Regions from separate parts of the Homo sapiens genome. Here region 2 is linked to region 1. Evidence: fine-mapped expression QTL. Tissue or cell type: whole blood. Region 1 holds a variant in brackets; the other region holds the start of a gene. All regions are shown on one strand. Distances are between the middles of the regions.

Region 1 (7,710 bases):
GGCGTTATTAAGCCATGGTTGCTCCTAGGTGAGTATATCGACTTGCCACTAGATCATTGAGTCCTTTTAGCCAGATTACGTTCTCATTTTCCCCCTTTATGCGTAATAGTCTGTATTATCAGCTATCCTGCCGAAAAGCTGAACTGTTTCCTTTTTTGGATATGGAACTTCCATTAGCCAGCTAGAGCCGTTTCTGCCTCACAGTGTACCCATAAGAAGCATAGATGCTATTCTCGTAGCACTTGGCACTGCATATTTGAATTTTAGAAAAGCTTTCTTCCCGTTTCTCTAACTTCTCTGGAGAATAACACATTGATGTTGTGTTTTCTTGGCTTATAAAAAATACAGCTTGAAAAAAAAGGAATGAAAAAAGAATGTTTGTATCAGGCAGAACTACAAGTGACAATGGTTAAAGTTATAGAAAAGTTAATACTCGAAATAGTCCTGTGCTTGCTGGCCTGCGCAGCTCTTACAGACCGTGCGGAATACATGCCTCCTGTGGCCACGTCTGTTCATGGTGTCTGTTTTTGGAGTGTTTAAGAGAAGGAGATCTTAAGATCTTATGATTTATTTCGTATTATGGAAATACTGAGCCCCTATACAAGCATAGTTCACAAATAGCAAATGAAGCAAGGTTATAAAAGTGCAAACTTGTTAATTTGGCAAGAATATGGTATGGTGTTCTTAAAAAAATAGTCAAGAATGTTTTCAAGTACGTCTGAATTATTTCTATTTATGAATAGAGAAATTAAGACTTGGAAAGACTAAATGACTTATCACTATGCAGCTAAGGCATTCTTGAATAGAGAGAAGACTGAGAAATAGCCCAGGTGCTGTTCACCTAGTGTCTTACTCCTTTGAGGAATCCTGTGAAGTAGGGATTATCAGCTTTGTTTTACAAATAGAAACCAGGATTTAAAATTGGTGAAGTAATTTACACAAGGTAACACACCTGGTAAATAACAGACGTATGCATCAAGCCCAAGTCTGATGGACTCCTGCTGTCCATTGTTATACTAGGCTGCCTCACATAGACCAAGTTTTCAATCCTGCTCCGCCTCTAATTTACTAGATTAGCTGGTGCAAGCCATTTATCCTTTCTGGTCCTCCAAAAAGCCATTTGTAAAGATGAAGTAACAGTATCTGCTTATGTCATAGGATCCTCCTGAGGTTGTTGTAAAAGGTTTTTGATGCAAATCAATTGCAGTGTACATATAAGTTATTAAATATTATATGAATTGTTACATAGGCTGTCTTTAAATTCACCAAATAAATGTCTCTAACTAGTTTCTACAGTCCCGTGAAAAACTGTACCATATTCTTGTCACATTTACAGTGAAAAAGTGAGTTATTTAGGTAATCTGAAAAGTTCACCTAGGCCCTGCTCACCATATCTAGGAAAGAAAATACGTCCTGGCACATTTTTCAGTTATTTTGGCTTCCACTGTAGTAATCATGGCTTGGAATAATTATGGTAGAATTTTCATATATCATTCACCAATTTAGGGTCTTCATGAACTTTGCTTATTACTATTATTTGTGGACTTACCCAAAGTGAACTGATCAAGGTAGTGTTCTGAGATTGGGGTTGGAAACCTCCCCAGGATAGTGGGAGAGTCCTGGGAGGAACTTCTGAAACTAGCCCTAATAAGGTCTTCTCTGGAATGGGATACTTTCATCAGGAGCAACCTCCTCCCTTCTGAAAGCTCACCTTTTTCTGCCTAATTACAAGTGCCTCATTCCTAAAGGATCCATGGGTGGTTCCACCCGCAGTTCTTCTACATGAATGTTGAAAGAGTTGTTTCTGACCAGACTTAGTTTACGTCTGGGAGACTGGGGTTGTTTGCAGGTTGGTTCTAAGAGCTTCTTTCACCTCCTCAAAGCGACACAGCTTCCTCCCAGCATCGCATGCCAAACAACTTTTGGTTTGGGTGATGAATAAAGAAAATGAAGAGTTGTAAAAATGTAATCTTTTTTAGTTCGTAAACTCTAAAAAGTGACTGCATTTAAAAAATATTACATAGGCCCTCGAACCATTTAAAAATGGAGAAAAGATTTTAGACAGCATTTTTGTCCTAGGCTTTGAACATTATATATAGACAGATAATTATTTATTATTTATTTATTTATTTTGAGATAGGGTCTCAAAATAAATCCAGGGTGGAGTGCAGTGGCACGATCTTGGCTCACTGCAACCTCTGCCTTCCAGGCTCCAGCGATCGTCCCACCTCAGCCTCTGAATAGCTGGGAATACAGGTGCACACCACCATGCCTGGCTAATTTTTTTGTACTTTTTGTAGAGATGCGGTTTTACCATGTTGCCCAAGCTGGTCTTGAACTCCTGGGCTTGAGCAGTCTGCCCGCCTTGGCCTCCCAAATTTCTGGGATTACAGGCATGAGCCACCACGCCTGACTAAACCACCAAATTTCAATTATTTGAACCTATTTTTTCCTCTGGAGTTGGTTAGGGCTTTCTACATTAGAAAACAGAATTTTAAAAAAAATTATGAAGTATTTCAAATTTATAGAAAATTACAGAAACTAATAGACAATTATGTATATACCATTCAGCTTTAACAAATGTTAATATTTTGATAGGCTAACTTTTAAGTATAATAAAGCTGAATGTGAGCTCAGTAGCGAACCTGTAAGCTTGGTATTATCAAGAGGATATTGGCCAAACAGCATACTTGCTGGCCTTTCAGCCACCTAAAATCACATAATAAAAGTTGGCTGAATTCCCAGATGGGTAACTTAAAAAAAAAAAAAGTTTATGAAATAGAACCTAATTCAGGAAAGTAAAATACTTGAAATCTTTAAACTGTGAAACTCACTTTATTTTGACTAGTTATTCTCCATATGAACTTGCTTATTAACTAGAGCCAGTTTCCAAGTGTGGGAGATCTGGGAAGCCGGCTGTGACAGAAAGAGATTGTAGAAGGGCACAGCCCTAGTGATACATGGAGTGTGGGTGGGATCCTGCAGACCAACAGCATTTGCTCTAAGCTACTGGGTGTTCCCAAACCAGCTGGCACAAAGTCATCTTGTGGGTGTGTGGTTTTTGTAATATCCTTTTTTAAGTTACAAAATAAAGAGATGTTTATTGTAAAAAGTCAGAATGAGCATAAAGAAGAAAAAAAAATCACCTGCAACCCCATTGTTAACATTTTGTTCTATGTATACCTCCTTTCCATTTTTTAAGCATATACATATTTTTTGTTGTTATAAAAATGGATGATGGTATTTTGTAACCTGCTTTTATAACCAGATACATTGAGAACATTTTTCTTTTTTTTTTTTTTTTTTTTTTGAGACGGAGTCTCACTCTGTCACCTAGGCTGGAGTGCAGTGGCACGATC[T/G]TGGCTCACTGCAACCTCTGCCTCCCAGGTTTAAGCAAGTCTCGTGCCTCAGCCTCCTGAGTAGCTGGGATTACAGGCATGCACCACCATGCCCAGCTAATTTTTGTATTTTTAGTAGAGATGGGGTTGTGCCATGTTGGCCAGGCTTGTCTCAAACTCCTGACCTCAAGTGATCCACCCACCTCAGCCTCCCAAAGTGCTGGGATTACAGACAGGAGCCACCACTCCTGGCCAAGAACATGTTTCCATGCTATACATATTTTACCACATTTCTTCTTTCTCTCTTTCTCTCTCTCTCCCTCTCTTTCCCTTCCCTTTTGTTCGTTCGTTCGTTCGTTCCTTCCTTCCTCCCTCCCTCCCTCCCTCCCTCCCTCTCTCTTCTCTTGTCTTGTCTTGTCTTTTCTTTTCTTATCTTTTCTTTTCTTTTGTTTTCTTTCTTCTGGCTGTGTCACCGAGGCTGGAGTGCAGTGGCATAACCATAGCTTACTGTAACCCCGAATTCCTAGGTTCAAGGGATCCTCCTGCCTTAGCCTTCTGAATACCTGGGAATACAAGCATGCACTACCATGCCTGGCTAATTAAAAAAAATTTTTTTTCTATAGACAGGGTCTCACAATGTTGTTCAGGCTTACATTTCTTATTTCTAATGGTGGTAATGGCTGTATGTATTTCACTACACAATTATACCATTTTTTATTTAATGCAACAGCTATTATTGGGCTTTTAGTGTTCTTTTGTTTTTGTTTTGTTTATATTACAAACAATACTATGGTGAACATCCTTACAGCTAATCTTTGCAACATCTATAACTTTTAGGACAAATTTTTAGAAGTAGGATTTCAGAGTCCAGGAGTTTATGTAGGATGACTGTTATCAAATTGCCCTTCAGAAAGTTGGACTAAGGTCCTTCCAAGTTGTTGGTCTTTTTTTTTTAATAACAGAATTGCTGTAGAAATTTATATAAAAGTTCAAGATGATTATATTTGTGTTCAAGGTGGTATCATTTATTTCTTCTAGGGTCACAAGATGCTGCTCATGATTTGGATACACTGAAAAAGAATAAGGTAAAAAAATGCTTTAAGTCTGGCACCATATACACAGAATATTTTAATTGTTTTATTTAGGAAAAACTGTATTGGTCCATCTTTGGTATATTATGGAGTTTATTTGGTAACATTTTGGCTATCATTTCAATAGAGTTGAAAAATAATTGGCACATAATTCAAATATGTGGATCTGTAATCTGTCTTTCCAGTTTTACATTCTTCTTGATCTCCTTCATGTACCCTCATGAACCTGACCTTGGAGGCATGTCTTTCTTGCCTGTGTTTATGTAGTTCCTCTGTGTGGGATAGACTTTCCCTCATCTCTGCTTGTCCAAGACCTGTCCATACCTTAAGTCCCAACTCACATACCACGTCTTCTGTAATGCCATTTCCAGCCACTCTACTCCATACAACTGATGTGATTTATTACATATTTACTCAAAAGGATTTTTAGCCCTCTACCATTTTTTTGAGTACTGTTTCAGGTCATGGAATTGCTGTAGGTGAAGGAGTGCAAGAGATTCTTGTTCACTTGAAGCGTATGACCTAAGGGGCAGACAGAGAAGAGAGACAAGCAGCTACCGAACAGCGTTTGTGTGCTTTGATGGGGAAGTGCAGGGTGCTGTAGAAGTGCATAGGAGATGATGCTCTTAACCCATGTTTGGTTTGGTTTGTTTTTGGGGGGATAAGTGAGTCAGGGGAGACTTCCTGGAGGAAGTGATATTGAAGTATTTCTCTGAAGAGGCTAGGAAAGGAGTAGACAGCCTGTAATCCCAAGGCTTTGGGAGGCCAAGGCAGGAGGATTGGTTGACCCCAGGAGTTCGAGGTTACAGTGTGCTATGATTTTGCTACTGTACTCCAGACTGGGCGACAAAGCAAGACTCTATCTCAAAAAAAAAAAAGAAAGTAAAGTGTTCATACAGAATAAATGATATGTGTGAAGGCCCAGAAGCAAGAGAAAGGTGGATGCTTTCAGGGACAGAAAAGTTCAGTGACCCTGGAATAGAGAGTGTGAGAAAGAAGGGCACCAAGAGACAAGGCCAGAGAGAGAGGTAAGCATGAGCCAGATCACAAAAGGCCATGTAAGCCAAAGTTAGTTGTGTGGACTTGATCCAAAAGACTATGGAAAGCCACTGAGAAGTTACCCAGAGATGTAACAAGGTCAAATTTGCAGTTCAGAAAGATTTCTCATTAGAAGCAGTGTGGAAAATCGATTGGAGGGTTGCTCAAGTTAGAGATGGGGGAAACTGGTTATAAAGCTATTGCAGTAATCTAAGGAAAAGATGATAATGGCTGAGATTAAGATTTAGTGGAGATAGAATTAGATAGATGTGAGGGGTTTTTTAGAGGGTAGAATTCTTAAAATTTGATTACTTATGAGGCAGGATAGGGAGTGGGGCTAAGGGAGAAGGAGGAGTCAAGGCTGATGTCTAGCTTTCTTTGGTAACTAAGTAAAGTTATCGTTCCATGAGATTGAAAGCAACGTAGAAGGAACAGGCTTTGAAGGAGAAACAGTGTGCTCAGTTCTGAACATGTTAGGTTTTGGGTGATGTGGATCATCTAGGTGGGTGGATATGTAGGGTCTGAAGTTCAGAATAGAGGTGAATATATAGATTTAGGAATCTTCAGCTTTTAAGTAGTTACTGAAACCATTAGAATAGATGAAGCTGCCTGGGGAAAAGTGTAAAGTAAGAGAGAAGAGGGCCTATGACAGAATCTTATCACAGAACTGATAAATTGAGGAATATCACCCTATATGGAATGATCAAACAAAGAAGAGTCCGCAGTGGGAAAGGAGGATCTAAAAGAGGCCCAAAGAAGGTAAAACAAAAAGATGGTGTCATGGAAACTAAAGAGAATAGTGTTTTAAGGAGGAGAGAGTCAGCAATGTCAGATGCTGTAAAAGTTTAAGTACGATTAGGACTAAATTATATCCATGGGACTTGGTGACAGAGAGGTTGTTAGTGCGTTTGGTGGAAACAGTTTCATTTGAATTGGAGGCCAAAGCCATATTGCAAAAGATTGAGAAGTGAGGAAGTGATGGCAAAGGGAAAAAAAAAAAGAGAGAGAGGAGCCATAGGTGAGGAGGGGGAGGGGAGAGCTTTGAGCATGTTTTAAGGCTGATGGTAGAAGAAGGAATTGAAGATACAGAAAAGCAAGAATTATGACTATAGGGAGATGCCAAGAAAGTAGGAAGCACTGTGACTCCAAGCACAGGTTCTGGAATGAGCCTTATCGAAGATGCACGAGCACATCCTTCATTGTAATCAGAAGGCAGAGGGGAAGTACAGATGTGGACAAGGTTGTTAGGTTTTTTTTTTTTTTTTTTTTTTTTTTTTTTTTTTTTGAGGCAGAGTCTCGCTCATTTGCTCAGGCTGGAGTGCAGTGGCATGATCGTGGCTCACTGCAACCTTTACCTCCTGGGTTCAAGTGATTCTCAGCCTTTGGATTATCTTAATGGACTGTCTGCCTGGCTTTCTTCCACATGGTTGGTGGACTCTAGGAAAAGGGGCTCAAATACATAGATGCAAGAGGAGGAGGTTGCTCAAGTGTACCATCTGAAAGAAAATATTTTACAACCACACCTCCCCTTACTTTTCAGCCAGATTGGTTCATCAGAATCTCTGGGTATGAGACCCTGTGTTATTGATAGTTTTTAAGAGTTCATCAGGTGACTCTAATGTGCAGTCATCCTGGAGAACCATTTTATAAAGTAAAGAATATGAAGGAAAATAGGGAAATAATTCTTGAAAGGGAAGTTGTATACCACTGATACACTTCTCCTATTTAAGTTTTTATATGGATATTCACAGATTAATTCAACAAAGATTTTAAGCATTTTCTGCTAAACTCACTGCTCATTCGCTTATAACACTAAGTTAAACATGGTCCCTACCCTCATGGAGTTTCTAGTGCAGTGAAAGAGAAAAACAATCTCTAAATGGCATGAGCTATAATAGGGCAAGTCCAGGGCTATGAAAATATATAGGCCAGGTGTGGTGGCTTATACCTGTAATGCCAGCACTGTGGGAGGCGGAAGTGGGAGCATCACTTGAGGCCAGGAGTTCGAGACCAGCCTGGGCAAAAAAAGTGAGACCCGCCCCCCTCTTCTCTGAAAAAAAAAAAAAAAAAAAAAATTAGCTGGGTGTGGTGGTACACGCCTGTAGTCCCAGCTACTTGGGAGGCTGAGGCAGGAGGATCACCTGAGCCTAGGAGTTCAAGATTGCAGTGGCCTATGATTGCATCATTGCACTCCAGCCTGGGTGACAGAAAGAGACCCTGTCTCTGCATGATGATAATAATAA
Region 2 (6,053 bases), 44 kb before region 1:
GAAAATGTGATAATTGATTGGCAAACATGTATTATGAGGTGGAAGGTTTTTTTTTTAAGACTAGAAGAGGTTGAGATTGAAAAGAGTATGTGGTTTATAATGCAGTAAGAATGCAGACAGCATGAACCTAATAAACACATGGTGAACAGATCTTACTCACTTCTTTGGCAAGATATTTGAACAAATGTTTCAATTCCTAGCCAGCTGGGAAGATATGCCAGACTCACAGACAATTCTATAGGCTGAAAGATCCAAAATCTTATCTGATTCATTTACATGCAAAATTACACAAAGGGAGCAAACCCAAGGGTATTATTATTAAAACTAGAGCACACAGGTTTTGAGAGAGAGGAGGGAAGTAATTCATTCATTTCAACCTGGCCTAACTGAAGGCCTCGAGTATCAGATAAGGCCCTAAATACTCTAGTATTTCAAAAATTACACTGTCCCTGCCCAGAGAAAATTCACACTCAAGCAAGGTAAGCAATGTATTTCTTAAGAAACTAAAAATATAAGGCAAGTGCTAAAATATGACGTTTCAATAAATCAAAATATTTGACATGGATATAATAATGATCACATTCAATGCATTTTAACTTTCACAAGTTCAATAATACAAGAGGCTGAAGCTTCCCAAAACAGGAAGTGAAAAAAACAGTGCTTTTGAGAAAAGGCAATGAACTGGAATTATTAGAGTTCAAATGCCCAGAATTTCATTTAATCTTATTTATGAAGGTGGGATATTAAAGTTTGATTGCATTTATCCTACAAAAATGTTTAATAAATGCTTAGAAAAGGTATTTTGCCCAAATACCCAAATCACTTTTGATGTTACTCTCACTTCCTCTTTTAGAAACCATCATAACCATTTCCTTTAAACCACAATACCACAGGTCTAGTAACTTTTATAATATTTGACTTGTTCATTTTTGGACAAAATTCATATAGGAATCAATTTCCAAGTTTTTTAAGCAGCACAATCTCCCCGAACAGTTCAGGTCAATGCAACCTCTAAGTAATACTATTTAAAACTGAATTATTCCTAACCTATATAAATTTATAACCTAGGCTCCTTGGTAAATGCAGAGGGGCTTCTTTGTCATGACACTGAGCTCCTGCCACATAAAAGGTAACAAACTGAGTAAGCATGTTGCAGTTACTCTCCAGATAGCACTGGGTTTAGAGTAATAAAGCCTTGCAATTAGGTGAGCAACCAGACTTTGTCCTTATCCAAAATTTATCATCATTAAACCAGGACACTCTTTAGAATTAGTGTCTACATCAAATTGTAAAAAATAAATCAATTTTACACTCAAACGCTTGGAAATGAATTTCCAAAGAAAAAAAAAAAAACCTTTCTTCAGAAGCCCTCTCAACCTACAATCTATTGCTATGATTAAACTAAACGGTAACATTCACGATATATTAAAAAGCCAACAAATAGTTATGAAGGTATGACATCAAAGACACATTGGAAACTCGATGGATCTAAATTTTCCAAATATCTCTTTTTCTCTTTATCAAATTGTTTAAAACTTACCAACCTTGCCTTAAGGGGAGAGATTTTGTTGTTTTGTCCTACGATAATGAATGTAATTATTTGTTCTATCTTTACATGGACTTTTCTAAACTTCCAGTGGTCTTCCACTCCTTACTGTACTGAGGACATGTAAAAGCCTTTAAATGGGCCTATTAGCTATAGTTGCTCAAATTATCAGACTATGCTATAAATCAGCAGCAATTGCAACATTTTTACGGTTTTTATTTTGTACAGACACCGAACTTTAAGAAATGGTATTGGAAAATCTAACATGAGGAGGAGTACAGGGGAAAGAGTAGAAGGTTGTTATTCCAGTTCTAGTGACTCACAGCCTAGAAGTATTTCAGAAAATTGGTTCCACCCTCACTTCCCCCTCCTCTCCACCTTCAAAATGAAATAATCCCAAATCGTCAACACACTCTCAATGGCTTTTTATTTAGCAATCTAAAATAAAGTGGCAAAGTGGAGGGGATACGGGATTCATCCAATCAGCCCTTCTCTACCCACATTCCCACACCAAAAAATGGGGATGTGGGGTGTAATCCCTGTTCACTGCTGCCATCTCCGTAAGAATATGGAACACTCAAGTTTTCCTACCCACCTAGAATTTCGCCCACCCACCACCCTCCCTTTCCTATGGGCCCCATCATGGGGGCGGGGGCGCCGAGGAGGGGACAGCTCCCGGCTCCCAGCGGCGCCCCCACCCCGTGCGAGGCCCAGCGCCCGATCCCGCCGCCGGGAGCCGGGAAATGGCTTCTCTGCCTTCGGCCGGCCGGCGAACCACAGGGAGAGGCGCCCGGGACTCCGCATTAGGCCGCGGCGCATCCAGGCGACCCCGGGCCGGGCCTCGGGCGGCGACGCCGAGATTTCTACACCCGGCGCCTCCTGCCGCCCCCACCCCACGGCCTCCCTTGCCCTTCATCCCTCCCGGGCCCGCCCGCCTCCGCCGCGGCCTCCCCGGCCCGTGCGCACCTTCTTGATGTTGTAGAGGCGGGTGAGCATGCCGACGCCCCGGTCGTTGAGGATGGTGAGCTTCTCCGCCAGCTTCTGCTGACTGGGCTGCAGCACTGAGCGCGACATGGTGGTGCTGGTGCCGCCGCCGCCGCCGGCCGCCTCGCGCCCAGTCACGGGCCCGCGGCCTTCGCAGCAGCCTCTCTCGGGCCTCCTCCCCTCCCGCCCGCGACCTCCGCCTTAGGAGAGCGCGCCCATGGCCCTCGCGCCCCAATCCCGCGCCGGCGACAGAGCGAGCCGCGGCGGACTCCTCGGAGCCCCTTCTCCCGCAGCAGCCCGCGCCCCGGCAGCCTCCTGCCTTCCGCCCGCCGCCCTTCCGCCCCCACCCCCGGCGCTCTCCGCCCCAGCCCCCAACGAGCCGCCTTCCCCGGCTGCTCCACTAGGTGTGGCGGCGGCGGCGGCGGCGGCGGCGTCTCCGGCGGCTGAGAACGAGGCCGCTTCCCGCAGCCCCGGACGGGCCCTCGGTCACCTGATCGGCAGCGCCGGCGCCCCCGCGAGGCCGGACGGGGAACTGCGGCCGACGGGCCCTCGGCATGGCCTCGCCGCCGCCGCTCTGGCCCTGGCCCTGGCCCGGACCGCCCACTACGCCTGATGCCGGGATGGGAGTCCCAAGCGGGGACTGAGTGGGGTCGCGTTGTGTGCTCTTTCCACTTCGCCCCACACCCCACTCCTTCAAGTTCCCAAAAGTTGCTTTTCCGCACCACCCTTCTAAAGAAACCGGCAGAAACTCTGCTGGGAGGCGGGGTGTTTTCCAGGCGAGTTTCGCTTAAGAGTGGGCTGGTGGCTCCAAGCGCTTTTTCCTCCCACTGCTTGACAGGCGCTCGCCGCAGAACACAGCAGATGTTGTGCTCCGCGAGGTGGGGATCGCCTCTGCCAGCCTCCCCAGCCCATCCTCAGTCTCCCCGCCTGGAACCAGTTTGTGAGAGAGGAGGTCGGAAGTGAGGGTAACTCAAGTCCTTGAGATAATCACAATCTAGACTTTGTCGGCGAGGAGCACCCATCCGGAGGAGACGCAGTAGGTCCTGGCATGTGGAAGGCAAAAAATAAATGTTTGTTCAATGCCTAAAGGAACCGCTCCCATTTTTTTACAGCCTCCACCCTAAATCCCACTTCTTCTTGGAAACATTCTTCTTTGCCATCTCATTTTTCCTGATCAATTTCTTCTTAGCGACACTCCAAGGCTACTCCCTTGTCAAATGTATTAGACATGATTCCAAAAGTGAACTAACTGAGGACTTACGTAATTGAGGTGAGAAACTTCAGCCAAGAGGACTCAGGCCTCTAATATTTTTGGCTTTGCCTTTTCTCGATATGTTAATTTTTTATATTATATTCATTAATTTTAAGTCAGTAACAAAATGTCCCGCCACATTCAATAAGACATTCTAAGAGTAATAAGCCATCACTGGATTTATCAAAACTCTTTAAGAAAAGGAAATTGTAATGAATAGCTTTAAAATATTTTTTAAAGCTACTATATCTACTATTCGTAAAGAAATCTTCATTTTAATATTCCAACAAGAAAGAAGGAGTGGACTGAATGGATTTAATCTAAGGGGCATTTAAAAGAGTCCTGTTCCCACCAAAAGAAGTCATAATCATACCTGCCAGTGTGCCTGAAATTCTATATACAAAGCTGCAGTACCTTGAATGAATGCTTTGTACCTAGAGAGTCTTAAGAATACAAACACTTCAGAGAGATCATCTGTCGAGCTATTACTAGTCATTAACTGGTCAAGGAATTTAATTTATCTGGTTACTTCTCAGCCTGATAGTTAACATTTTAATTTAGAGGAGGCAAGGTTGTGGGGCCTGGAATAGTAAGGGCAGACCTGAGAAGGGGAGGCTGCGAGGAGGGGTTTGGGGTAGCCAGATAAGAAAATTTAAAAATGTTGAACATTGGGGAAATATGTGCTCCTTTAGGGAGACTACAAATAACTAAGTCTAGACGCAGAATTACAGAGTGCTACCAATAAAAGATTGTCTCATTTTCTAGTTTTTAAAAACTGCTGTATAGGGAGAACAAGAAAATGGCACTGTATTATAAATTTGAACACAACTCTTACTCCCCAAGAAAAACTATCATGTTGCCATATAAACTTGAATACTAGTAGCTGCTTATAACTCAGGAAGTACCCAATAGGAGAACGCTGTAGATAGTAGTCTCATTATTCAATATTTATTGTCACTAATTCATAGACATACTGGCCCTAGACTGTAATGAAATGTATATATTTGCGTAAAAGAGATTAGATGTAGATGAATTACAATTTTTGTCTTTCTCTACATTTTGCATTAAAAAGAACAAGTGTACGGGAATTTTTCTTAAACTTTTTAACTTTTTTGTAGAGACAGGGTCTCCCTATGTTGTCCAGGCTGGTCTTCAACTGCTAGGCTCAAGCTCCATCACACCTGTAACCCCCACACTTTGGGAGGCCAAGGCAAGAGGATTGTTTGAGTCCTGAAGTTCAAGACAAGCCTTGGCAACATAGGGAGACCCCCATATCTACAAAAATTTAAAAATTAGCTGGGGGTGGTGGCGTGCCTGTGGTCCCAACTACTCTGGAGGTTGAGGTGGGAGGATCACTTGAGCCCGGAAGGCAGAGGCTGCAGTGAGCTGTGATCACACCCCTGTACTCCAGTCTGAGTGACAGAGCAAGACCCTGTCTTAAAAAGAAAGAAAGAAAGAGAGAGAGAGGAAGGAAGGAAGGAAGGAAGCAAGCAAGCAAAGGAGGGAGGGAGGGAAGGAGGAGGAGAGGGAGGAGGGGAAGGGAGGGGAGAAAGGAAAGAAAGAAGGAAGGGAGGGAGAGAGGAAGGAAAGGAAGGAAGGAGAGATGAAAGAAAGAAAGAGAGAAATTGAGGCCAGGCACGCTGGCTCACTCCTGTAATCCCAGCACTTTGGGAAGCCAAGGTGGATGGCTCACTTGAGGTCAGGAGTTTGAGACCAGCCTGGTCAACATGGTGAAACCCATCTCTACTAAAAATACAGAAATTAGCCGGGCATGGTGATGCGTGCCTGTAATCCCAGCTACTTGGGAGGCTGAAGCAGGACAATCACTTGAACCCGGGAGGAGGAGGTTGCAGTGAGCCCCGTGATTGCACCACTGCACTCCAGCCTGGGTGACAGAGTGAGACTCTGTCTCAAAAAAAAAAAAAAAAAAAAAAAAGGAAAAGTACATCCATCATCCAGCCTCCCTTGCAGCTTATGTTCTGACCAGTAAGATATAAGCTGTCAAGAACCTTCCTAAAGGGACTGCTGCTGCTCTCCATTTGCCAGTTCTTCCTCACTTCCTTCATTCTGCCACACCCAACAAGGATGCAATGACCACTATCTTGAACCAGGAAGACAACAGCCACTCAGTAAGGATGACAAAACATAAAAATGGAAGGTGTATGTGGGCTTTTTAGAACACAACAGCCATGTCAAACTTGGCCTGTCTAGACCTGGTTTTGTACGAAAGAGAAATAAACTTCTAGCTTTTTTATTTGTTTTTTTTTTTAT

The links. PIP is the estimated chance that this variant, and not a neighbour inherited with it, causes the effect.
Region 2: it holds the start of NCKAP1, and the variant in region 1 is fine-mapped to the expression of NCKAP1 in whole blood (TOPMed, PIP above 0.99).

The regions. Positions count from the first base shown.
Region 1 is chr2:183,079,132-183,086,841 of GRCh38, forward strand. It overlaps DUSP19 (dual specificity phosphatase 19), which reads left to right. Exons shown (of 4, transcript NM_080876.4): 1 at 1-28; 2 at 4,377-4,423. Among named protein-coding and RNA genes, the nearest start is that of DUSP19, 4.2 kb to the left of the region's middle. The variant T/G (reference allele first, on the strand shown) is at 3,360.
Region 2 is chr2:183,035,480-183,041,532 of GRCh38, forward strand. It overlaps NCKAP1 (NCK associated protein 1), which reads right to left and starts at 2,978. Exons shown (of 31, transcript NM_013436.5): 1 at 2,513-2,978. The coding sequence starts at 2,620. RefSeq lists silencers at 2,398-2,517, 2,578-3,167, 2,900-3,551.